6 separate regions of the Homo sapiens genome follow, and regions 1, 3, 4, 5 and 6 are each reported to be linked to region 2. Evidence: microRNA targets listed by miRTarBase, many of them from high-throughput screens and not tested one by one. Region 2 holds a microRNA gene; each other region holds the end of a gene's coding sequence. Distances are between the middles of the regions.

Region 1 (4,120 bases), not on the chromosome of region 2:
TTCAACTGAATTCTCTCACCCCCAATATTATCTTATGACCAAATATTAGGAGAAACCTGTCTCATAGCCTCATAGCCCACCCAGTCCCCTCCCTCACCCCTCATGGAATCGGGGTGCTCCTGGGTGGTAGGTACATGGAGTAGCATCACTCTCAGGGCCTTGGTAAACCTAAGAAGGATAAAGTAGAACCAGGTCATTCTAAGGTATATCCTACTCAGCCTATCTATACCCAGTCATCCCTCAGCCATATGCTTGAGCCCCTCAAAACTCTCACTCACAGCATCACATCCTGGGTTCTGGCAGCTGGAACCAGTCCGGATCAGACTGTCAAGTCCTGGGCAAGGGAAACAGAGTCAGGAACTTATCCATCCCCCCACTCAATTGCCACTTCCACTAAATTCCAGTCTATGAAGTTGATCCTACTAAAGACCCACCTACCTGCCCCAGGTTCCTGGTCTAATTCCTTCTGTTCCAATGCCATTTCCAGGGCTTGGGATATATTTAGCGGCAGCAGCTTCAGAGGCAACTCTGACCTAGGGGTTAAGGGTGGTGATTTAGTTCTGACCCATTAGCTATGATTGCTAGCTCCAACACTCCCACCGATGGTAATGGAATTAAAGAAGCCTGGTGAAAGTGAGGCAGAGTTGGAGAGGTTGGGTAGCAACCCCATTGCCAATTTTCATCTCTGTGGACATCCCAAATACCTGAACCCTAGAGAAATCCCCAGCACTTCTCTTACCCATCTACTCAGTTGCTCTAAACCTAACCACTTTTCTCTGCAGAACTGAGTCATATCCTCTTCCTCTTTATCTAATCGTGGACCTAATATGACTTCCTTCTGTTGCTCTTATTATTCCCACAAAATTTGGGAAGTCTCCTGGCTGCCAATAATACAATACATCCTTTTCTTGATATGAGATTTATCTTAAAGTTCTTTTCTAGAAAGAGAAGTCATTCTCAACAATCCCTTTTGTGTTATACACTAAGGATGTATTTGTGAGGGGCTATCTACTCTGTTGATTCAGGTATCTATCCCATCATCCCACACCACCTTAGAGGAAAGGGCGTTATTTCCAGACACAAATTTCCCCTAAGGCACAGGATATACACCATCCAAACCCTGACATCTGGCCCTCCTCACATCCCTGGTCCCTAGTTCCCAGTCCTCAATGACCCATTAATCACTCCTAGGAAGCTACATGAAAATAAGAAAAGTCCAGGGGCCTCCTCCTCTTTACTTGGGCCTCTCCCGGCGCAAGGTCTCTGCTGACTTTGGAATCACATTCAGAGGTTTTTGCTCCTGAAGTGAACTGCTTGTAGCAGGGCCTTCAGGTTGAGGGGCCTCAGGAAGCTTCTCAGCACAGTGTGGTCCCATAGTACAGCCCTAGTATAGATAAGGAGATAGGATTAGGGATAGAATCCTTCTATTGGGGGCAGAATCCAAGTACATAAATAATTTACCTTGATGTTTAAGAACTCAGAGAAATCTACAGTTCGCTTTCGGCAGCAGGACCAACCCTGATAACAAGAGACCCAGATCAGCTTAGCTTCCTGGGTATTATCTCTTCTGGGAAATGCTCTTGCTAACCCCCCTCACCTACTCCTCACCTTAAGTGCATCATGGAAGATTGGGACCCCAGGGTGATGGCAACAGGAATCTGTGGACATCAGTAGAAGTTATCAAGGAAGGGAAGATAACTATACCAAGTATCATTTTTCACCTCTTCCCCGGGTTTCTATTTATGGTTTCTTCCCATATAATGTGAAGAAAAAAAAAAAAGCCAGCAAAGGCTGTAAGATCACTCAGACCAATTAAACTAGGGCAGGTAGTTTCTTTCCCCGCTCCTCAAACACACTGCCCCCCAGCTGACCAGTCCCCAACACCCACACAGAGCCCCTGGCCAGGTCAGGATTCTTTACTCACCAGGAAGGTTGGTATTAGGGTCAAAGTGCTGCCCACAGCCTTTGTTACGACAGAGTAGAGACATGGAAGCGTTGGTTGAATGATTACTGAAAGGGTATTTCAAGGAGTCTGGCTGCCGAATGGGGAACACCTCTTAGTCTGGAGGCTTTTAGCTGCCTGGAAGGGCCAGCTGTTTCTATCTTTAGTTCAGGAGGCGTACACCTCCTAACATGGGCAAGGGAACTTCAATTCGTCTTTCCAGCCAATAGGAAAGAGCTCGGGGGCATTTTAGCTCTGAGGCTCAGGAAAAAAGGATCAGGCAGAGTAGGGCTTTGAACTTGGGTGAGGTCAGCTCACCACTACTGAGACAGTTTTAGATTCACCACAGCAATTCCAAGCCTTGGACACAGCAGCAGCTGCTAAGAAACAAATACCAATTTTGAGACCCCCCCCGCGCCCCCAGCTCGATGAGGATTAAGCCCATTTTCTTCCTCTTTCAGAGGGGCAGCTTTCCTCCATCATTACTTCCATGTAGTATCAATAGCGCTAATCCTTGCCAACCCCTCCAGCCATTTGATGCACCTCATCCCCACCTCCTCCCCATGTTTGTCTAGATCAATACTGTAATCCAAAGGTCATAAAGGATTACCTTTATAGAGTCTACTGCTCATCTCCTAAGATAACTCCCCTCCCTCCTTTCCCCTTCAAAAACACCACAGAAAATTAAAAGGCTTAAAATGTATTTTAATAGGTTGATGCTGCATTACTGCTCCATTTTTCAGAAAAACTCCAAATATATGAGACAAATCAAACACAGTACACCAATGAAAAAAAAAATGCACAGCATGACTACCTAAGATAGGCGAGTCTAAGAGCTACTGTCAGACCTTCAGTATACAGTAACCCTGTTCCCAAGATTGTACTAGGCCTATCAAGAAAAGCTGTGAACAGCAACATCATAGACACAAAAGGGTCATTCCTGGGTGTCCTCACCCAAGAAAAAGATGGAGGCAAGTTAACACAAGATTTTTTTTTAAAGATACACTAAAATGAAAATCTCTAAGAGAAAATGTCTTCTTTAGGACATGAAGGGGTAATATATGGGGTATAACAGAACCGTATGTACGCTGCCTGTGACCTTTGTGGACGTTTGCCTGAATTCTCACCTGGGAGTGAATGGAGCAATGGGGCTAAGGTCATTGGGGGATGTTTGGTTTTTGTGGTGTATGTGGCAGTTTCTCTGGGGCTGGGGGAGTGTAAGGATAAGAAGCAAGTGAGGTTGGGCACGGTGGCTCACCCCTGTAATCCCAGCATTTTGGGAGGCCGAGGTGGGTAGATCACGAGGTCAGGAGTTCAAGATCAACCTGGACAAGCTTGAACCCGGGAGGCAGAGATTGCAGTGAGCCGAGATCATGCCACTACACTCCAGCCTGGGCGACAGAGTAAGACTCCGTCTCGGGGGCGGGGCAAGCAAATGAAACAAGATGGACAAAAAAAAAAAAAACCGGAATGATCAAGATTAATGGGCTCTAACTGGATCCACTTTGCCATGGTTTCCCCAGGCCCTCAACAGTCACATTAGAGACTTCAGGAATGCACCACACAGAACTGATTAAACAATATACCACACAGAATTGACTTGTTTAATACCACCCCTCCCTTGCCCTCTGCCTCCAGCATACTCCCTAGAGTAGTACAGGCAGGGTAGATCTAACTATTGGAAGGAATCCCTAACACTTTTCCAGGGTAGAATTCTGGCTAGTCCAAAAAGGGTCCTTCTTTTAAGGGTTTTGAGAAACTAGACACTGCAACTTATTAGTATCGGCGACGTTTGTTTGGGGCAAATTCAGCTCCAGGAGCTGCACGGTTGAATGCAGGAGGAGTTCCACCAATTGCCCCAATTCCTTCCATTGTAGCAGCCTGACCAAAGCGTTCAGTTGTTGGTGGGGTCTTAAAGAGAAAAAGAGAGCAACACTGTAACAGAGCCATTGTTGGAAGCTTCCCACCCATCTGTAGTCCCTCCACTGGAGGCTATTTCCATTCAACTATTCAAGGCTCCTGATGGTAGGTAGGAGTGGGTGACTAAGTCTGTTTAGAACTCTAGTGGATAACCCCAAAAGTGGTGGCGCATGCCTGTAATCCCAGCTACTCAGGAGGCTGAGGCAGGAGAATCGCTTGAACCTGGGAGGCGGAGGTTGCAGGGAGCCAAGATTGCAC
Region 2 (4,131 bases):
TTCTTTTGTTGTTTTCGAGACGGAGTCTCCCTCTCTTACCCGGGCTGGAGTGCAGTGGCGTGATCTCAGCTTACTGCAACCTCCACCTCCCAGGTTCAAGTGATTTTCCTGCCTCAGCCTCCCGAGTAGCTGGTACTGCAGGCATGTACCACCACGCCTGGCTCATTTTTGTATTTTTACTAGAAATGGGGTTTCACCATGTTGGCCAGGCTGATCTCAAACTCCTGACCTCAAGCGACCTGCCTGCCTCGGCCTCCCAAAGTGCTGGGATTACAGGCATGAGCCACCATGCCCGGCCTGAATTCCCTTTGATTTTTAGTAGTAGTCTAGGATTTTTAATAGTCTTCTTTAATTACTGGAGTGTTCCAGAATCTTTTGTGACAGCCAACTTAGTCTTTTAAATGTTTGCATTTTACGTGCATTGTCTTGGTGTGAATAAATCTCACCTTATGCCTTGTTTTCATTACTTTGTGTCATTATTAGCTGAAATTTTAGAATAACAAATTAGTATGGTTTTAATGTTTTTTTGTAAAACTTCATTTTATCCATAATAAGTTTGGATTGTCTTATTTTATCTTTGGTAGCTGCAGCATCAGGCAATGAGAACATACAACCACCACCATTAGCTTATAAGAAATGGGGTCTACAAGATATTGACACTATTATTGATCATGCTAGTGTTGGTAAGTATTACTAATTCAAATTCTCTTGGAATTTACTTCTTACACTTTTTATTGAAGTATCTCATTTATTAGAAATGGGCATTTATTCTTTATTTATTATTATTATTTTTTAAGATGGAGCTTTGCTCTGTCACCCAGGCAGGAGTGCAGTGGCATGATCTCAGCTCACTGCAACCTCCACCTTCCAGGATCAAGTGATCCTCCCACCTCAGCCTCCCAAGTAGCTGAGATTACAAGCATGCGCCACCCCGCCTGGCTGATTTTTGTATTTTTAATAGAGACGGGATTTCATCATGTTGGCTGGGTTGGTCTTGAACTCCTGACCTCACCCGCCTCAGCCTCCCAAAGTGCTGAGATTACAGGCGTGAGCCACTGCACCCGGCCAAAATTTATTCTTATGTGAAAAAATGCATTGCCTTTAGTGAGACATCTGGAAGTTAGTTCAGATTCAGATCATCATAGGCATATATCTTTAAAACTGGGCATGATGGCTAACACCTGTAATCCCAGCACTTTGGGAGGCCGAGGTGGGTGGATCACATGAGGCCAGAAGTTCAAGATTAGCCCGACCCACATAGTGAAACCCCGTCTCTACTAAAAATACAAAAATTAGCCAGGTGTGGTGGTGCACACCTGTATTCCCAGCTACTTAGGAGGCTGAGGCAGGAGAATTGCCTGAACCCGGGAGGTGGAGGTTGCAGTGAGCCAAGATCACGCCACTGCACTCCAGCCTGGGTGACAGAGCGAGACTCTGTCTCAAGAAAGCAAAACAAAAACAAAAAGAAATGGTAGCAGTTTTAATAAAGATTTAATTATGCCCTCAGCCACAGTATTGTACAGTTTTAAGTCACTCACTGTTTGACTAATTTTTCTACAGACAAATTTGGTCTATATAATGACCATATAAATCAGTCTTAAAAATGTAACCTTGGTCAAGTGTGGTGGCTTGCACCTGTAATCTCAGCTACTCAGAAGGCTGAGGTAGGAGGATCTCTTGAGCCCAAGAGTTCAAGACCAACCTGGGCAATATAGCGAGACCCCATCGCTTAAAAAAAAAAGTAACCTTTAAACTAGTAAAATATAGATAAAAGCAGATTTCTTCTTGCAGCCACTATAAGAGAGCTTACTGTGTTAGGTACTGAGGGTATAGAGATGTAAAGACATGCTTCTCTGTTGTCTGAAAGTGTGAGTCTAGGAGCCTGGTTAGAAGAAACACATGAGAATGGCTACAATACTACAACATAGTAATTGTAACAGACAAGGGGACCAGCTGTAGTGGGAGCAGAGGAGGACACACTTATTGTTTCTCCAGCACACCATACACTTTTATCCCTAGATCTATGTGCATGTGGGCTAGAATGCCTCCTCTGTGTTTGTTCACTTGGTCAAGTTCTACTCATTCTATGCAAACTGGACACTGGGAGAGAAAGAGCAAGGAGAAGAGGAAGGAGAGTGACTCTAAAGAGGCTAAGGATATCTGACACACAGGCCATCTTTCTATTTACTGCATAGCTCTTACATGGAATACTCTGTAATAAAAACCTATTGGTAAACATTTCAGTGTGTCTACTTTTTTGCTAGCATAAAAATGCTGCAAAATTCCAAAGTGTTAAGTTCAGTTCAGGGTAGCTTCCCTGCTCTGTTAATTAAACTTTGGAACATTGAAACTGGCTAGGGAAAATGATTGGATAGAAACTATTATTCTATTCATTTATCCCCAGCCTACAAAATGAAAAAAGGTACAATAAACGTTATTGTATGTACATCTTTATGTAGAGGTCTGGTTAATTTATTCAACAAATAAATGAGTACCTATTAATATTTGTGCTAGAAATACAAGATAGGACCCCACCCTGATAAAGCTTACGTTTTGGTGATGGGGAGACAAACAATAAACTAAATGAATATCAAACTCTTAGTGGGCATCATGAAGAAAATAAGTAGGTTATGGTAGAGAGTAAAGGAAGAGGGTGCTTTAGGTAGACTAGTGAGGAAAGGCCTCTCCAAGGACATGACATTCAGACTGAGACTTGAAGGATGAGAAGGAGCCAGCTATGGAAAGAGGTGTAGGAAGAGCATTCTAGGTAGAGGAGCATCAGGGATATAGGCCTGGGAGCCTTGAAGACCTCAGAGTGTTCAAGAAACAGAAAGGGGGTTGGTGTGACTTGACTGTAAAGAGTGAGGGGAAAACAGGACAAGGTTAGGTTGGAGATGCAGACTGGGGTTAGATCACGTAGGGATAAGGAGATCCGATTTTATTCTAAATGCAGTGGATGTCACTGATGGATTCTAAGTAGGGGATTACATTTAAACATATCTCCCTGTTTGCTGGGTAGAGAGATGCTTGTAGAAGAAAGCAAGGAGACCAGTTATTGCAATAATTCACCCAAGAGAGAATGATGGCTTTATGGTGGAGGCAGTGGAGTTGGAAGGAAGTAGACAGATTTGAGATACCTTTTGTACTTGCTCAGGGATGGTTTTGAGAAACAAGAGGAAGGAAAGAATTAAGGGTTTCTTAATTTTTAAGTTTGAGCAACGGGCTGGATGATGAGACTGTTTACTGAAATGAGAATAAGGAGGAGGAGAGGAAGAGATTTAAGGTAGTCAAATAAAGAGTTACGTTTTTACAGGTTAACTTCTGACACAGTTAAACATTCAAGTAGAGGTATCAAGTATACGAATTGGACATGAGAGTCAGAAGTTCAGGGAGGAAGCTGGGAATGTACATATAAATTTGAGAGGGAGTGGTTTACTGTGGAATGTTTCGTAGAGTTCAAGAAAAGAAGAAGGTCCATTGGATTTGACAACATGGAGTTATTTACTTACTGACTTTTGATATGAAAGTTACAGTAGAATGGTGAGGATGAAAGCCAAATTAATATAGTCTTAAGAATAAATATTTTCACCCCCTGCTGTCTAAAATCACAAACAAGGAGCATAAGAAATAGATTCCCAGTATCTCCATTTTTATGGAGTCCTGACCTCTTGCTGAAGCCTCATACTCATTTCTCCAGCTCCCTACTGAATAATTTCTACCTAGATGTCAAACTTAACATATCCAAAATCGAGTAATTTCCTCCTGTCAAACTTGCTCCTCCTTTTTTTTTCTACATCATCTTTCTTCTTCTGGTTGCTCCTTACCGTGACATACAAGGCCCAACTTTATCTGGCTTATGGTACCTCTGACACTGTCTCCTGTAGGGTTCCCCTCCCTGTTCATTGTGTTTCATCATGTAGATCTCCTTTGTGTTCCTCAGACACAGCAAGCATATTCCTACTCTAGAGCATTTAGAATTACTGCTCCCTCTGCCTGGAAAACTTTAGCTAGTCACATGGCTTTCTCCCTCTCTTCACTCAGGTCTCCTTATATATCACATTGTCAAAGAGGCCTTCATTAGTCACTCTACTAGGCCTAGAAAATTATCCAATGAGTTTGACTTTATGGAAA
Region 3 (4,131 bases), not on the chromosome of region 2:
CTCCGCAGCCTCTACCTGCGATGGTGCTGCCAGGTACCGGCTCTCACGCCCCGGGATTGGGGGATCGGCGGGGAGGTGGGGGCGCGGGGAGAGCTCCCGGCCCCACTCAGATCCTGGGAGAGTCTGGGGCCCCTCCCTATCCAGCAGCCGACCTAAGCGGAACGCAGGGGTCCCGGCGGCCCCCACGAGCACTTCCCAGCCGCCTCCCGGCTCCGGGGGGGACGGAGGAACCCCGGGCTTGAACCCGCCTAGCCCTCCATGGACCCCAGGGTGCCCTCCGCCTCGGTGCGAGCGGAAATCGTTAAGTCGCTCCTCCACTCCCGACAGGTGCAAGACTTCGGGCTGAAGCACCTCCTGGCCCTGGGGAGTTTGCGCCTCCTGTCTCTGGCAGGTGAGACCCCCGTTTCTGCTCTGACGCTGGCAGTGACCACCCACCCCCACTTAGTCCACCCGCCCAACCTGCCCGGTCCTTGTGCAAACTCACACCCGGCGCGGACACACAGTCCCGGGTCCGAGGCGGAGGAGGAGGGAGGCGCGGCCCGGCCGTCCCCGCCCGAGCCCTGGGCCGCGCGCACTGAGCCGCCCTCTGACCCCGCCGCAGGCTGCCCGCTGCTCACCACCACCGGGCTGTCGGGCCTGGTGCAGCTGCAGGAGCTGGAGGAGCTGGAGCTGACCAACTGCCCCGGGGCCACCCCCGAGCTCTTCAAGTATTTCTCGCAGCACCTGCCCCGCTGCCTCGTCATTGAGTAGCGCGAGGCCCCCGCCCCGGTCGCGGGAACCCGGCCATGACCTGGGCGGGGGCGCGGGGCGCCGCCGAGCCCCCTCTTCCCGCCTTGCGCTCGGGGGAGCCCCCGCGCCCCCGGCCCAGCGCGGGAGGCGGGGCGAGCCGAGGGAAAGCCCCTCCCCGACCTTCGGTCCCTCCGCCCTCCCAGCCCCGCCCCGGGCAGGGGGGCGGCGGGTGGGCCCGCCCCACGCACGCACGCACACTCGGGGACTTTGTGCATGCCCCTCGTGCCCGCACTGCACGCCGCCCTCCGCCACGCCACAGCCACAGCCGCCGCCATCACTCGCTCGCCCTCCCGCTTGGGGGGCGGGGCTCGGTCCTTGGGGGGGCTTTGAGCTCTCCAGACTGTGCCCTTACCGCCTTCCCCGCCACACCCGCTCTGTCTTCCCACTGTCCCCCCCATCCCGGGCAGGGCCCAGTGGGATTGAGGGGGCTGGGTCCCCCAGGACACGGGCCCAGAAGAGCCCCACGGGCTTCCTGCATCTTCCACCGCACCATACCTGGAGCCCTCCGAGGGGTGTCAGGGGAAACAGGCCACCGCCAAAGCCATGGCCCGCCGCCGAGAGCCCAGGCCCCACCCGCACCTCCTCACCCATCCAGCCTGACCCACGCGGCCTCTCCTCCTCCTTGCCGCTGTGTGGGGCAGTCCCCTGTCCGCCCCAAAACCCGGCCTTGGTCCCTGGCCAGGCTGAGAGAATTGGGCAGGGAGAGGGCGGAAGGGCTGGCGATCGCTTGGAGTCATTAACGTGATCCCAGCTGACTCCGGTCGGCCTCAACCCAGGGGTGGCGCAGGCACCTTGCAAGCCTCGAGCTGTAGCCACCCTCAGGCCTGGGAAGAGGCCTGGGCCGACCTCACACCTCAGCCCTTGCACCCGGCCGGGCTCAGTTCAGGCCTGGGCACCGAGCTTCACCCTGGGTGGGTCTCCTCAGGTGGAGTCTGCAGAGTGGACCCAGCCAAGGGTCAGGGTCAGCACTGGGTCAGCGACTCCAATCTTCCAGTGGCCAGCACACCCTAGACACCCCGAGGAGGGAGGGCTCCTTTCTAGCCTGCCCCCCCACCCCCACTTCACCCCTCCCCAGCTTCCCAAACTTCTGTCTGCCCAAATGGGCTCTGACCGTGCTCTGTCGGCCCGAGACATTTGGAAGTCCTGGGGGATGCTGGCAAATCTCAGCTGTTGCTGAGGAGGGGGCTGGGACCCCTTCCCATCCCAACCTTGAGCCCCAGGAGATACCGCGCCCACACCCAATCTTGGGACACTCCCTATCTGGTTGGAAGAGAGTAACCAGTTTCCAGAGAGCCAGAGAGTGAGAGAGAGAAAGAGAGTGAGAGAGAGAGAGAAAGAGAGAGAGAGATGCTGTTGAATCAGAAACAGATCAACAGCCCAAAGATTTTCCTGTCCCTGGAGTGCCAGCCCCAGGAAGCTCCAGGGCTGAGTGGTCAGGAGCCAGTTTCTCCAGCCCCTCCTCCCCACAACCCCTAGTGGGGAGGGGCAGCTGTCCATTTGCCCAAAGTATTAATGCAACTGAAGCTGTGATATTTCCAACGACTGTAGGAGGAAAAATTAAGGGGAGAGAGGAAAACAAAACCAACCAACCCCTAAAATCATTTTCTTATTGTACATAACGACCTCATTCTCCTGTATATGCGGAAGATATAACCTTATATTTGGTAAGTGTTTCTTGTGCTATTTTATCACGTGACCTGTTTATAAAAATATATATTAAAAAAGTTGTAAAAACATGTGTCTGAGTTGTTTTTAGGTCCCCAGACAGCGGTGTAGGTGGGCATATCTGCCCTGCGCATCCCAGGTCTCGGGATTCTCCTGTACCTCTTATCAGATTTATTCTTTCTTGCAACAAAGGGGTAGAGGCTGGATGCCGACATGGTAGAATGGAAACAGCAGTGACTACATGGAAGGCAGAGGACCTCCCATTCCTTAAAGGGAGAGACAACACTGAAGTCACTACACATAATATTCCCTCCAACATATCCAGACTCTAGCCCACCCTTCCAGAGAGGCAGAAATAAACCCTGTTCTATACACAGTAACAGGCAAGGACAAGGATGTCGCAAAAGATTACAAAATGCACCAATAGCAGACAATGGCTCACACCCAGGAGAGACAGAGAGGTCGAAAAAGGCAACTGAGGCTGGGCACAGTGGCTCACGCCTGTAATCCTAGCACTTAGGCCGAAGCGGGTGGATCACCTGAGGTCAGGCGTTCAAGACCAGCCTGGCCAACATGGTGAAACCCTGTCTCTACTAAAAATACAAAAAATTAACAGGGTGTGGTGGTGGTTGCCTATAATCCCAGCTACTAGGGAGGCTGAGGCTGAATCGCTTGAACCTAGGGGGTGGAGGTTGCTATGAGCCGAGACTGCGCCACCTCACTCCAACCTGGGCGAAAGAGCAAAACTCCGTCTCAAAAAATTTTAAAGAGACCGGGTGCGGTGGCTCACACCTGTAATCCTAGCACTTTGGGAGGCCAAGGCGAGTGGATCACCTGAGGTTGGGAGTTCGAGACCAGCCTGACCAACATGGAAAAACTCCATCTCTACTAAAAATACAAAATTAGCCCAGTATGGTGGCCCATGCCTGTAATCCCAGCTACTCGGGAAGCTGAGGCAGGAGAATCGCTTGAACCCAGGAGGCGGAGGTTGCGGTGAGCCAAGATTGCACCATTGCACTCCAGCCTGGGCAACAAGAGCGAAACTCCGTCTCAAAAAGTTTTTTAAAAAAAAGAACGAGAGCAACTGGTTGAACAGGTGTGTCAGGCACTGGGCATTCGGTGGGGATTGAGCCAGAATGTGATTCCTGCCTTGGTGGAATTCACACTCGTATGTGACCGACAACAACCAGTAAACAAACGAATGGGTGGTGACAAGTGCCGTGGAGGCCACAGTGATGGAGAAGCCCATTAGGGCAGTGGTCAGGGAGGTCCGCTCTGTGGAGGAGGCATCGCACGCACGTACAATGTCCCTGAGGCAGGAAAGGGCTTGGTGGGCTGGGAATGGGGGTGGAGGCTGCCATGGCTGGAGGTGGGCAGGGGAAGGCGGAGGCCAGGAGTTGGGGTTCATTCACAGCATAGTGGGAGCTGCCAGAGGCCTCAGGCAGAAGACCTGGTGCCTGACTTCTGTGCGGGTTTCTGATCAAAGGGGAAAGACGGACCCAGGAAAGCCGTTGGGAGGCTGCTCCCGAGGTCGAGGAGTGAGGAAGGAGGGGAAGACTGGGGGCACTCGGAACTTGTCTAGGGATGACCAGATGTCATGATGGACCTGGGGATTAAAATAGGTGATGGCATTAAAATACTGAAATTGAGACTTAAAAAACAGGCCAGGCGCGGTGG
Region 4 (4,000 bases), not on the chromosome of region 2:
GACGGAAGGGATGGAGCCAGAGGAGGGGGTGACAGTTGAGTCTCAGCCACAGGTGAAGGTGGAGCCACTGGAGGAAGCCATCCCTCTGCCCCCTACGAAGAAGAGGAAAAAAGAAAAGGGACAGATGGCAATGATGGAGCCAGGGACGGAGGCGATGGAGCCAGTGGAGCCGGAGATGAAGCCTCTGGAGTCCCCAGGGGGGACCATGGCGCCTCAACAGCCAGAAGGAGCGAAGCCTCAGGCCCAGGCAGCTCTGGCAGCTCCCAAAAAGAAGACGAAGAAAGAAAAACAGCAAGATGCCACAGTGGAGCCAGAGACAGAGGTGGTGGGGCCTGAGCTGCCGGATGACCTTGAGCCTCAGGCAGCTCCCACATCCACCAAGAAGAAGAAGAAGAAGAAAGAGAGAGGTCACACAGTGACTGAGCCAATTCAGCCACTAGAGCCTGAACTGCCAGGGGAGGGACAGCCTGAAGCCAGGGCAACTCCGGGATCCACCAAGAAGAGGAAGAAGCAGAGTCAGGAAAGCCGGATGCCAGAGACAGTGCCCCAAGAGGAGATGCCAGGGCCGCCACTGAATTCAGAGTCTGGGGAGGAGGCTCCCACAGGCCGGGACAAGAAGCGGAAGCAGCAGCAGCAGCAGCCTGTGTAGTCTGCCCCCGGGAAACTGAGGAACTAAAGAAAGCTGAAGGTGCCCACCTGGGCCACCAGAAGGTGACACCCCCAGAATCCCTCCCCAGAGACTGCACCAGCGCAGCCAGCAGGAGCCTGGCCTGGGAGGACGATTTATTATTACACTGGGGGTTTCCTTGGCAGCTGGGGTCATCAGGGTACTTTCAAGAAGGGCTCGTGCAGGACATCAAACAGCCTCCGGGCCTGGATGGGAGGGAGAAAAAAATGAGGAACCAGTCATTAAAGGAGCTGTTTCCTGGGTAAATCTAGAGTGGGGTTTTGGTTCTTTATTTTCCCCTATACCCTCAAGCATTTATCCATTGAGTTACAAACAATCCAGTTACAATCTTTTTAAGTTATTATTATTATTATTATTTTTTTTTTTTTTGAGATGGAGTCTCGCTCTGTCGCCCAGGTTGGAGTGCAGTGGCGCAATCTCGGCTCACTGCAAGCTCCGCCTCCCGGGTTCACGCCATTCTCCTGCCTCAGCCTCCTGAGTAGCTGGGACTACAGGCCCCTGCCCAGCTAATTTTTTGTATTTTTTTTTAGTAGAGATGGGGTTTCACCACGTTAGCCAGGATGGTCTCGATCTCCTGACCTCCTGATGCGCCTGCCTCAGCCTCCCAGTGCTGGGATTATAGGTGTGAGCCACTGCGCCTGGCTAAGTTATTATTATTTTTTTGAGACAGTCTCCTGGTGTCACCCAGGCTGGAGTGCAGTGGTGTGATCTTGGCTCACTGCAACCTCCGCCTCCTGGGTTCCAACGATTCTCCTGCCTCAGCCTCCCGAGTAGCTGGGCCTAAAGGTGCCCACCACTATACCCGGCTAATTTTTGTATTTTTAGTAGAGACAGGGGTTTCACCATATTGGCCAGGCTGGTCTCGAACTCCTGACCTCGTGATCCACCTGCCTTGACCTCCCAAAGTGCTAGGATAACAGGTGTGAGCCACCGCACCCTGCCAAGTTATTTTAAAATGTACCATTATTATTGACTATAGTCACCTGGTTGTGTTATCAAATAGTATGTCTTATTCATTCTTTCTTTGTGTGTGTGTGTGTGTGTGTGTGTGTGTGTGGTACCCATTAACCTTCCCCATCTCCCTGCCAGCCCCTAACTACCCTCCCCAGCCTCCAGGAACTATCCATCCACTCTTATCTCCATGAGTTCAATTGTTTTGATTTTTAGATACACAAATAAATAAGAACATGCAATGTTTGTCTTTCTGTGCCTGGCTTATTTCACTTAACATAATAATCCCCAGTTCATTATGTTGTAATTGACAGGATCTCATGTTTTTTTTGTTTTGTTTTGTTTTGTTTTGAAAAGGGTCTCGCTCTGTCGCCCAGGCTGGAGTGCAGTGGCACAATCTTGGCTCACTGCAACCTCCGCCTCCCGGATTCAAGCGATTCTCCTGCCTCAGCCTCCCAAGTAGTTGTGATTACAGGCACGCGCCACCACACCCAGCTCATTTTTTCATTTTTAGTAGAGACAAGGTTTCACCACGTTGGCCAGGCTGGTCTTGAACTTCTGGCCTCAAGTGATCTGCCCGCCTCGGCCTCCCAAAGTGCTGGGATTAGAGGTGTGAGCCACCGCGCCCAGCCAGGATCTCATTCTTTTTTATGGCTGAAGAGTATCCATTGTGTGTAAGTACCACATTTTCTTTGCCTGGTCATCTGCTGATGGACACAGGTTGGTTCTAAGTTTTGGCAATGTGAACTGTGCTGCAACAAACAGGAGTGCAGATACCTGTTCCATACACTGATTTCCTTTTTTTGGGGATATACCCAGCAGTGGGATTGCTGGATCATGTGGAACCTCAACTTTTCAGTTTTTAGAGGAGCCTCCAAACTGTTTTCCATAGTGGTTGTACTGATTTACATTCCCATCAAAAGTATATGAGGGTTCCCTTTTCTTCACATCCTCGCCACCATTTGTTATTGCCTGTCCACCATTTGTTATTGCCTGTCCTTTGGATAAAAGCCATTTTAAGGCCGGGCACCATGGCTCACACCTGTAATCCCGGCACTTTGGGAGACCGAGGTGGGTGGATCACCAGAGGTCAGGAGTTCAAGACCAGCCTGACCAACCTAGGGAAACCCCATCTCTACTAAAAATACAAAAACTAGCTGGGCATGGTAGCGAGTGCCTGTAATCCCATCTACTCAGGAGGCTGAGGCAGGAGAATCGCTTGGATCCAGGAGACGGAGGTTGCAGTGAGCTGAGATCATGCCATTGCACTCCAGCCTGGGCAACAGAGTGAGACTCCATCTCAAAAAATAATAATAAGCCATTTTAATAGAGCTGAGATGGTATCTCATTATAGTTTATTTTTGGTTTTTGGTTTTCTTTTTTGAGATGGAGTCTCACTCTGTCACCCAGGCTGGAGTGCAGTGGTATGATCTCGGCTCACTGCAAGCTCTGCCTCCCAGGTTCATGCCATTCTCCTGCCTCAGCCTCCCGAGTAGCTGGGACTACAGGTGCCCACCACCACACCCAGCTAATTTTTTTTTGTATTTTTAGTAGAGACGGGGTTTCACCATGTTAGCCATGATGGTCTCAATCTCCTGACCTCACGATCCACCCGCCTCGGCCTCCCAAAGTGTTGGGATTACAGGCGTGAGCCACCATGCCCGGCCTATTTTTGGTTTTTTTTGAGATGGAGTTTTGCTTCTGTTGTCCAGGCTGGAGGGCAGTGGTGTGATTTCAGCTCACTGCAACCTCCGTCTCCCGGGTTCAAGAGATTCTCCTGCCTCAGCCACTCAAGTAGCTGGGATTACAAGCATGCGCCACCACACCCAACTAATTTTTATATTTTTAGTAGAGATGGGGTTTCGCCATGTTGGCCAGGCTGATCTTGAACTCCTGGCCTCAAGTGATCTGCCCGCCTCGGCCTCCCAAAGTGCTGGGATTACAGGCATGAGCCACTGCACCCAGCCTCACTGTAGTTTTGATTTGCATTTTTCTGATGATCAATGATGCTGAGCACCTTTTCATATGCCTGCTTGCCATTTGTATGTCTTTTGAGAAATGTTAATTCAAATATTTTGCCCACTTTTTGATTGGATTATTATATTTTATCCTATAGAGTTGTTAGAACTCTTATCTTCTGATTATTGATTCCTTGTCAGATGGTTAGTTTGCAGATATTTTCTCCCATCCTGTGTGTTGTCTCTTCACTTTGTGGAATGTTTGCTGTGCAGAAGCCTTTTATTCTTTTTTTTTTTTTTAATTTTTGAGATAGAGTTTCACTCTTATTGTCCAGGCTGGAGTGCAATGGCGCTATCTTGGCTCACTGCAACCTCCACCTCCCGGGTTCAAACGATTGTCCTG
Region 5 (4,118 bases), not on the chromosome of region 2:
GCACCCGGTTTATATCTTTATTTTTAAGCTTTTTTTTCTTTTTTGAGACTGAGTCTCACTGTTGCCCAGGCTGGAGTGCAGTGGCGTGATCTTGGCTCACTGCAAACTCTGCCTCCCGGGTTCAAGTGATTCTCCTGCCTCAGCCTCCTGAGTAGCTGAGATTACAGGCTTGTGCCACCATGCCCAGCTAATTTTTGTATGTTTACTAGAGACAGGGTTTTGCCATGCTGGCCAGGCTGGTCTCGAACTTCTGACCTCAGGTGAACCACCCACCTCGGCCTCCCAAAGTGCTGGGATTACAGGCGTGAGCCACCATGCCTGGCCTCTGGCTGCAGTATCTGTGGCAGAATGGGACAGGCGAGGATTGAGAACCAGGACATCTGGCTTTTGCCTGTTAACTGACTGTGTGACCCTTGGGAAGTTACTTCTGCTTTTTGGGTTTCTTCATTTGAACAATGAATGGAGGACTAGGTAATTGGTATGCTTTTCAAACATTGGAGAGATTTTCCACACCAACATTCTAGAGGCTAGCTCCAGACATCCTCTTGTGCCCCTTCTCTCTCATGAAAAATGTCCAGTACTGCTGATATAGTTTGGATGTGTGTCCCCACCCAAATCTCATATTGAAATGTAATCCCCAATCTTGGAGGTGGGGCCTAGTGGGAGGTGACTGGATCATGGGGGTGCATTTCTCATGAATGGTTTAACAGCATTCCACTTGGTACTGTCCTCTTGAGTGTTCTTGTGAGATCTGGGTGTTTAAAACGTGTGTGGCACCTCCTCCTGCGCCCCCTTGCTCCTACTCTGGCCACATAAGATGTGTCTGCTTCCCCTTTGCCTTTCCACTATGATTGTAAGTTTCCTGAGGCCTCCCCAGAAGCAGAAGCTACTATGCTTCCTGTATAGCCTGCAGAACTGTGAGCCAATTAAACCTCTTTTCTTTATAAATTAAATTACCCAGTCTCAGGTATTTCTTTACAGCAATTCGAGAATGGATTAATACAATTGCCAATTTTCCTTTTCTTTTTTTAAAAAATAAAAGCCAAAATAACACTTTTAAGATCCCAGGTTTTAGACAAGGCAGCTGTAGTCTCTCCATCATCCTCACTGTCCATTTGCTTCTTCCTGGGACAGACACTGTGGCCCAGTGAAGCTGAGGGGACCCTGGGATTCAAAGCTGGTGGAATGGACCCTCCCTCCCCCCACAAGCTGTAATAACCTGCTGGAATCCCACACAACCTGAGGGCTTCACTTGTCAACAGCTCCCTTCCCTCAGAGGCTATTTTGAGGCAGGCATTCGGTGTTTTATGACTGAGCTACCCAGGAGAATGGTTTGAGGCCACACTCAACTGTTCCAAGGAGCAGCACTGGACCAAAGGCTGCTTGGTTCCCTGCGGTTCCTGATGCCACCCCTTCTCTTCAGGGTGGTTACCTAGAAGACAACAGTACATGAGGCTTCCAGCCCAGCCCTAGGAGATCCATCCCAAAGACCCCACAGAGACCTGCATGGGAGGTGGGGCCACAGGTCTGGTATCAGGCAAACCTAGGTTGGAACACTGGCTCCATAAAGAGGAAGTCACTTAACCTTCTCTGGGGCATGGTTTCTTCATCTGTTCCCACCTCTGAAGACTATCGTAAGACAGAATGAAAGTTAAGCAACTTAACGCAACGCCCAGGATACCAGAATTATTCTAAATGGCAGAATCCTACTTAGTCTGTCATCTTGGGAGTTCTCTAGGCAGGCAGGTTGCCAGGGGTGGGGCTGAGATCCAGATGTGCTCTAGGTCCCTGTCTGCTGCAGAATCATGTGGCTGCTGGACCTGGGGGTCCCCCAGGTCCTTGCAGGAGCTGAGGGTAGGAGACTCCATTTGCCAAACAACTTAGAACTTTGGGCCTCAGTTTCCTTGTCTTTAAAAGGAACAGGTAAAGAATTCATAAAAACAATTGACAAGGGCTGCCTGGAATTTCCCTGTAATCTCTTCCAGGCAGAGGAGGCCTCAGAGGTGAGAGTAAGAGCAGGAAAACAGGGACAGGTTTCACTCTGTTGCCCAGGTGTGGTGGCTCAGGTCTGTAATCCCAGCACTTTGGGAGGCTGAGATGGGAGGATCGCTTGAGGCCAGGAGTTTGAGATCAGCCTGGGCAACACAGTGAGACCCATCTCTGCCAAAAAAATAAAACAATAAACCAGGCATGGTGGTACATACCTGTTAGTCTTAGCTACTCGGGAGGCTGAGGCAGGAGGACTGATTGATCCCAGGAGTTCAAGGCTGCAGTAAGCTGTGCCTGGGTGACAGAGCAAGACCCTGTCTCTCAAGAAAAAAAAAAAAAAAAAAAAAAGGCTGGGCGTGGTGGCTCATGCCTGTAACCCCAGCACTTTGGGAGGCTGAGGCAGGTGGATCATGAGGTCAGGAGATTGAGACCATCCTGGCCAACATGGCAAAACCCCGTCTCTATTAAAGAATGCAAAAAATTAGCCGGATGTGGTGGCACACGCCTGTAGTCCCAGCTACTCAGGGGACTTGCTTGAACCTGGGAGCGGGAGGTTGCAGTGAGCCGAGATCACACCACTGCACTCCAGCGTGGCAACAGAGCAAGACTCTGTCTCAAAAAGAAGAAACAAACAAACAACAAAAAAAACAGCACAGAAGGGTGGTGCTGTGGGCAGAGGGGTATTTCCAGTGGATGGGCTGTTACTGTTTTCTCAGGTTGGTCAAGATCACAGGCCCATGGAATGCTGGGGCCAGAAGGCACTAAGGCCACAGCATCAACATCTACTTCCCAGAGCATAACACCAAGGCCCAGAGCAACTGGGTAATGTGCTGGGAGCTACAATGAGTTTGAGGCAGAGTCTGGGCTAAAACCCATGTCTCCAGACGGGTTTAGGGAGGATCTTAGAAGTTTTAGAAAACATAATGCTTAGTTATGGCTGGGTGTGGTGTCTCACGCCTGTAATCCCAGCACTTTGGGAGGCCGAGGCAGGCAGATCACCTGAGGTCAGGAGTTTGAGACCAGCCTGGCCAACATGGTGAAACCCCATCTCTATAAAAGTTACCCAGGTGTGTTATGCACCTGTAATCCCAGCTACTCGGGAGGCTGAGGCAGGAGAATCATTTGAACCTGGGAGGCAGAGGTTGTAGTGAGCCGCCGAGATCGTGCCACTGCACTCCAGCCTGGGCGACAGAGCGAGACTCTGTCTCAAAAAAAAAAAAAGAAAATATAATGCTTAGTTCTGGTTTAAATTTGCTCACTGACTTTTCTTCTTTGAAGAATCAAATCTAGCTTATGACTCATAAACTAGATAACTATGATAATCTAGTTTATGATTCAGATACACTACGGTGGTAAATTCCTACAATTCAACTTCATGATTTAGCTCTAGTGCTGTAGGAGGGGTCCAGAGAGCTGAGGTCTGCCACTGCACTCAGGCTTGTGGGGGCTGGGTAACACCACCCTGCAGGTGGTAGTGAGAAAAAGAGGACTTGGGTGTTGTTATCTTCTGTGGCAGCAGCTGCCCTGGGGGTTCTGCAGGGAGGGGACAGGGTGAGGCCTTGGGGATAGGGCATTCGGGGCCCACCAGCCTGTGTGGCCTCAGTCTCAGGGAGAAGGAGCACCCGGGTGGCAGTAGAAGCCTCCAGGGAACCTCAGCTGGCATCATTGATGGGAGTGCGGGTGCCACCCAGCAGTCTCTCCTGCTCGCTCTCCTCTGCCAGGGGCCGGCCCCTGGACAGGCGGCCCAGCAGCGGACGGTGTAGCCCATTGTAGAGGGCAGTGCCTATAAGGAGTATGAGGAAGCCAAGGATCTGCAGTGCATGGAAGGCCTCCCAGCCCAGTGCCAGGCTCAGTGCCCAGATGACAACGGTGCGCAAGCTGTCCAACACCATGCGGGTGGTGGCGCTCAGTTCCTTGGTGACGCTGATGCCTGCGAAGTTGAAGAAGGCAATGCTGCTGATGTTGCCCAGCAGTGCCACGGCAATGAGCGGCTGCTGGCCCACCTGGCAGAAGGCGTCCAATGCATCCTCCAGTGTCCCACGAGGGTTTCCGCTGAAGGAGCCGGCGGGGATGTAGTACATGGGCACCAGCAGCAGGGAGAGGATCACAAAGCCAAAGAGGCCTGGGGA
Region 6 (4,000 bases), 200 Mb from region 2:
GGCTGGTTTCTTTAAGAGAAGAATGGAATTGATTTTGTTTGCTAGTTCAGCAAGGAAATATAAATTTAAATGCAAATTTGAGCAGCAGTGGACAGTAAATCATCTTTGGCGTCTTAGATTGGTTTTCCCTGTTCCTGCTGAAAAGCAATCTGTGCCCTTTGCCACCATCTCCCTTCTAGCAGGTGGCAGCTTGAGTCCCCCGTGCTTCCTACTCACCACCATGGCCTTCTCTCTCAGGTCACAAACAAACAGAGGCGAGAACAGCAGTGGATGGAGAAGAAGAAGCGGCAGGAGGAGAGGCACCGCCACAAAGCCCTGGAGAGCAGAGGTAGCCACAGGGACAATAACAGAAGCGAAGCAGAGGCGAACACGCAGGTCACCTTGGTGAAGACCTTCGCCGCTCTCAACATCTGACTCTTTGGCCTCTTGGGAGTTGTAAGAAGCGGCTGGAAAAGGATTGCTGTGTGCTAGACTTTCCAGTGAGGCCGTCCTTTTATAAAACGCAACACAACCAACGAAGCCCACACATGAGCTCACACACTGAGTTAGTTTCGTTCAAGCTGCCTCTTTTTTTGTTCGAAGTTTTATTAGTGATATGTTGGTGTTTTATGAAAATGCAGTGAGGCCATTCATATTCTGTAATACAAAATTAAAATACTGAGTTTTAGGGGCAGATAGTTAGGTCAGGAAAAACCTTTTAAGTGGTGGCTTTATTTGCCCTGAAAATCAGACTTCAGTGACCCTAGGATCTTTCCTTAACATTTGGGGTGAGTTTTGCTGTAATTGTTCATGAGTAGTTTAGAATAATTGTTAGAAATTCAGAATGACAAGTTTCCTTAGTTTCTCTTTCATTCTCAAACAGATATATAGGGTAGCTTATAAATGATCTCCAACTCAGGAATATGCTTTGATTTACTTCTAATCCAAGTTACTCAGAAAATAATTCAGGAATTGTTTTCCCAAAGTTACGTGAGGGTTGTGGCCTGCAGTCAGGATGGAAATTAACCGCATTTCTCTCCTTCCTGATTCTGATGTTATTTCAGATGGGATGCAGGTGCTGTTAGTTCATTTGCACTCAAGCCATATGATAAATGCAGCTGACTGTTAATTAGGCCTGGCCTTGTTGGGAAGTTGATAGTGGTGTTGGGTTTTTGGTATTTGTTTCCTGACAGTGGGGAGATGGCATGTTACTGCTTGTGATACAGTTCTGGAATTCTGATAGTGTGTAGAGCAGGGTCTATAGTTGTAACAGGAGACGAACTCCTGGGGTTTTGCCTAAGAGGAGTCTAAAGAATTATGTTTTTATAGGAGAAGCCTGGAAGAATAAGGTTTTTCATGTTCGCATTTTAAATAACGATTTTCTTCCCTTCTGTTGTAGACTTAGATGCCTTCAGAGAGATACGTGGTAACTTGACCTTATAGGTCGCTAAACTTAGTATTGTGGAAATTAAATCTTATAAAATGCTACATTTATTTCTTTTTATTTAAGCCCTGTTTGGCATTTCAAAGTTGGGAAAACTCCAGCATCTGCTGGAAGTTGTTGGACCAGCAGGGTTGGTTGACTTAGGTTGGACCAGCAGAGAAGAGAACATACTTTGGTTGAGGCCTTCGAATCACTCTTCAGTTCTGAAATAGACAGACTTGAGCAGTGGAGAGACGTCTTTCCTAAAACTGAGTTAGGTGGATGTGAACTTAAGAACTATAACGTATGAGGCAGCCCATCTTGGATCATCTTTGTCTTTTGGGACCTAATACTTGGGCAAATAATTGATGCTGAGTTGAAAGGTAAATTATTAGTTATCTTCCCCACCCCTCGCATTTCAGAATTATAAAAATTCGGAGGCAAATTGAAAACTAAAATGTTTGGTAGGCCCTGGAGTCGCCAGATTGTCTTTATCACCAGGCCTTTGGCTTTCTTCAGTTTCACTGGTATCTTTTGGTTTTGTTTTTGACTTTGGTGGCTTTTTGTAGTTGGAGCATCAGTAGTCTCTTGGAATTGCTCCTAGGACATTGTGGTTTAGGTTTCTTCCTGGGTACAGTACATTGTAAAATTTAGCAGATTAAAAAAAGTACACAGCATTTTTTTTCTGTGCACGTCGCAGAGTCCTGAGCTTGAGGCTGTGTTACTCTACTCATTCCAAACGAATGAAAGATCTCTGTTGCCTTACTCTAAGGAAGTGGGATCGAGTGCGTTAGGATCTATGGTTGTCTTGGTTTTCAACTCTGGGCAGATTCCTGACTGGCTGAGTGTTTCTGAATGAAGATGTTTTCCTGTCTGTTTTGTACTGCTTGAGTGCAGAGGCCAGATCCTCTCAGAAAGATAAGATTGTATGCCAGAAATTCAGATTAGCAGTCAGCTTAAGAGAGACTTATTGTCAGAAGTAGTAGAATTGCTTTATTTACTTGGTTAATGAAGGTGGCCTTGGGCCCTATTGGGTTTTAGAAGTTTTAGAAGCTGCTAAAAAGTTATTAAAGAATATTGGGAACATTTATTTTTTAAATTACCTAATTCTGGTAATAGGCTTCAGCATTTCTGGAGTATAATAATGGTGGTTTAAAAAACTAATCAAACGGCTTTAGTAATTTTACTACTGGTTTCACAGCTTTTCAGTTACAGTTGGTCTGTTTAGTGTGTTAATTATTAGGAATCGGGTACATGCATCCAACTTCAGTGATACCTTCTAGCTAATGGTTTCAATTTAGACTTCACTGCCTCAGTCTCACTGGGTACATGAGAAGGTTGGAATCAACATGCTTAGTTGCCTCAGTGGGCACTTGAAAATTCCTTCACTGGCAGCCCGAGTGGAGGCCCAGTATGTCTAGTCCTGGGATGACTGTTGTCAGCAGCTGTTACTCTAGTACAGGTGCTCCTGTGAACTCTTTATTAGGAACTGAATGTGTCTTAACCTCTGTGTTACATCTTGGCTGGCAGAGATTTATGTTACATGAGATTGTCTTGGTAGCTTGTAGTGTGGTCAGGAGAAAGGGGATGGAGCAGTGGTGCATAGCTGCTTACTGCTCTTATAAACGGTATATAAAGGTTTTACGGATTTTGAAAATATTTTTTTTTAGAGGTCAAAATAAATACCATTTTAGTGGCAACAGCTTTGAACTAGAGAGGTAGATGTATTAAAGCAGCATAGAACCATAACTTCTAGATAATGTAGTTGCCACTAGGAGATATTAGAAAGTTAGAATGTATGTGTGTATTTAGTTTTTCAATAATAATGAACATACACTTTCAGGAGCAAAGTATGGTTGAGAAATTGTGGCAGAAAGAATTTTAAATGTTAGTCGAAGTTGTCTGTAGTTTCTTTATTAAGCTCTGAAAACACTTCCAATGCCAGTTTGATTCTGAGGGCTTGGGAAGTGGGATCTCCCTTGTGGAGCAGCTGGAGCTGGCTGGGAGGGAGCCTCTCCATGGGTAATTTATTATGCCTGCCCTGCTTCCCCCAGGGAGCTGCTTCAGTGTGAAATGATGTGATTGTCGGGGGTGGGGTGGGAGGAGGGCCACCTTCAGTCGGGGAGTTGCTCACATATTACACAGGTAGCATCAGGTGGACTTCAGCGCTGAACTGTACTAGTAGTGAGTCCCTGTAGTCAATGTGCAATTTCTCTAATTCTGAGAAACTCTGTAGACTCTGCCTGGGTTTTACTGGGTCAGCATAGAATGCTATCAGTTTACCTCTGTGAAATATTCAGTCAGTTGAAGGAAACTTGGATTCCTAGTCAGAGGTGACTAAAAGTTACCCTGACCAAAAGGATCTCTGCGGGGGGAAGAGAATGGAGCTTCCTGATTTTAATGTGTTGCGTCAGTGGCCCTCTTCGACTCCCGTTTTGGGTAGATGCGTAGCTCTTCACTTTCTTACCTCAAGGCTCTGTCTAGCCATGTTAAATCTTTAGACTCAGTCTGATGCCGTTTTTCTGTTTTGCCATTCTCATTATTCACAGCTTTCAGAACAAGTGTTGCTAAAACTCCGGGGCCTTTGACAGTTGTTCT

What was found. Region 2 holds the annotated microRNA hsa-miR-664a-5p (ACUGGCUAGGGAAAAUGAUUGGAU, at 2,350-2,373, shown strand). A microRNA usually pairs through its seed, bases 2 to 8, with sites in the 3' UTR of a target mRNA and lowers its output. Matches are read on the target gene's strand: a 7mer-m8 pairs with bases 2 to 8, a 7mer-A1 pairs with bases 2 to 7 and ends in A, and an 8mer does both.
Region 1: miRTarBase lists NONO as a target of hsa-miR-664a-5p. Seed matches in the 3' UTR shown: 8mer at 3,657-3,664.
Region 3: miRTarBase lists FBXL16 as a target of hsa-miR-664a-5p. Seed matches in the 3' UTR shown: 7mer-A1 at 2,081-2,087.
Region 4: miRTarBase lists POLR1G as a target of hsa-miR-664a-5p. Seed matches in the 3' UTR shown: 7mer-m8 at 1,241-1,247.
Region 5: the mRNA of SLC35F6 is a reported target of hsa-miR-664a-5p. The part of its 3' UTR that is shown has no 7-base or 8-base seed match.
Region 6: the mRNA of OTUD3 is a reported target of hsa-miR-664a-5p. The part of its 3' UTR that is shown has no 7-base or 8-base seed match.

The regions. Positions count from the first base shown.
Region 1 is chrX:71,299,675-71,303,794 of GRCh38, reverse strand. It overlaps NONO (non-POU domain containing octamer binding), which reads right to left. Exons shown (of 12, transcript NM_007363.5): 12 at 2,627-3,853. The coding sequence ends at 3,719. ITGB1BP2 (integrin subunit beta 1 binding protein 2) reads right to left here and starts at 2,045. Exons shown (of 11, transcript NM_012278.4): 1 at 1,925-2,045; 2 at 1,609-1,658; 3 at 1,462-1,518; 4 at 1,239-1,384; 5 at 439-533; 6 at 279-334; 7 at 98-168. The coding sequence starts at 1,988. RefSeq lists an enhancer at 1-247.
Region 2 is chr1:220,198,828-220,202,958 of GRCh38, reverse strand. MIR664A (microRNA 664a) reads left to right here and starts at 2,340; the gene lies at 2,340-2,421. It overlaps RAB3GAP2 (RAB3 GTPase activating non-catalytic protein subunit 2), which reads left to right. Exons shown (of 35, transcript NM_012414.4): 9 at 585-683. SNORA36B (small nucleolar RNA, H/ACA box 36B) reads left to right here and starts at 2,283; the gene lies at 2,283-2,413.
Region 3 is chr16:690,894-695,024 of GRCh38, reverse strand. It overlaps FBXL16 (F-box and leucine rich repeat protein 16), which reads left to right. Exons shown (of 6, transcript NM_153350.4): 4 at 1-33; 5 at 328-391; 6 at 602-2,525. The coding sequence ends at 750. Among named protein-coding and RNA genes, the nearest start is that of WDR24, 2.6 kb to the right of the region's middle.
Region 4 is chr19:45,408,853-45,412,852 of GRCh38, forward strand. It overlaps POLR1G (RNA polymerase I subunit G), which reads left to right. Exons shown (of 3, transcript NM_012099.3): 3 at 1-1,885. The coding sequence ends at 649. ERCC1 (ERCC excision repair 1, endonuclease non-catalytic subunit) reads right to left here. Exons shown (of 10, transcript NM_001983.4): 10 at 1-873. The coding sequence ends at 823. Among named protein-coding and RNA genes, the nearest start is that of POLR1G, 4.2 kb to the left of the region's middle.
Region 5 is chr2:26,778,035-26,782,152 of GRCh38, reverse strand. It overlaps SLC35F6 (solute carrier family 35 member F6), which reads right to left. Exons shown (of 6, transcript NM_017877.4): 6 at 922-4,111. The coding sequence ends at 3,642. Among named protein-coding and RNA genes, the nearest start is that of CENPA, 6.0 kb to the left of the region's middle.
Region 6 is chr1:19,907,333-19,911,332 of GRCh38, forward strand. It overlaps OTUD3 (OTU deubiquitinase 3), which reads left to right. Exons shown (of 8, transcript NM_015207.2): 8 at 238-4,000. The coding sequence ends at 414. Among named protein-coding and RNA genes, the nearest start is that of PLA2G2E, 14 kb to the right of the region's middle.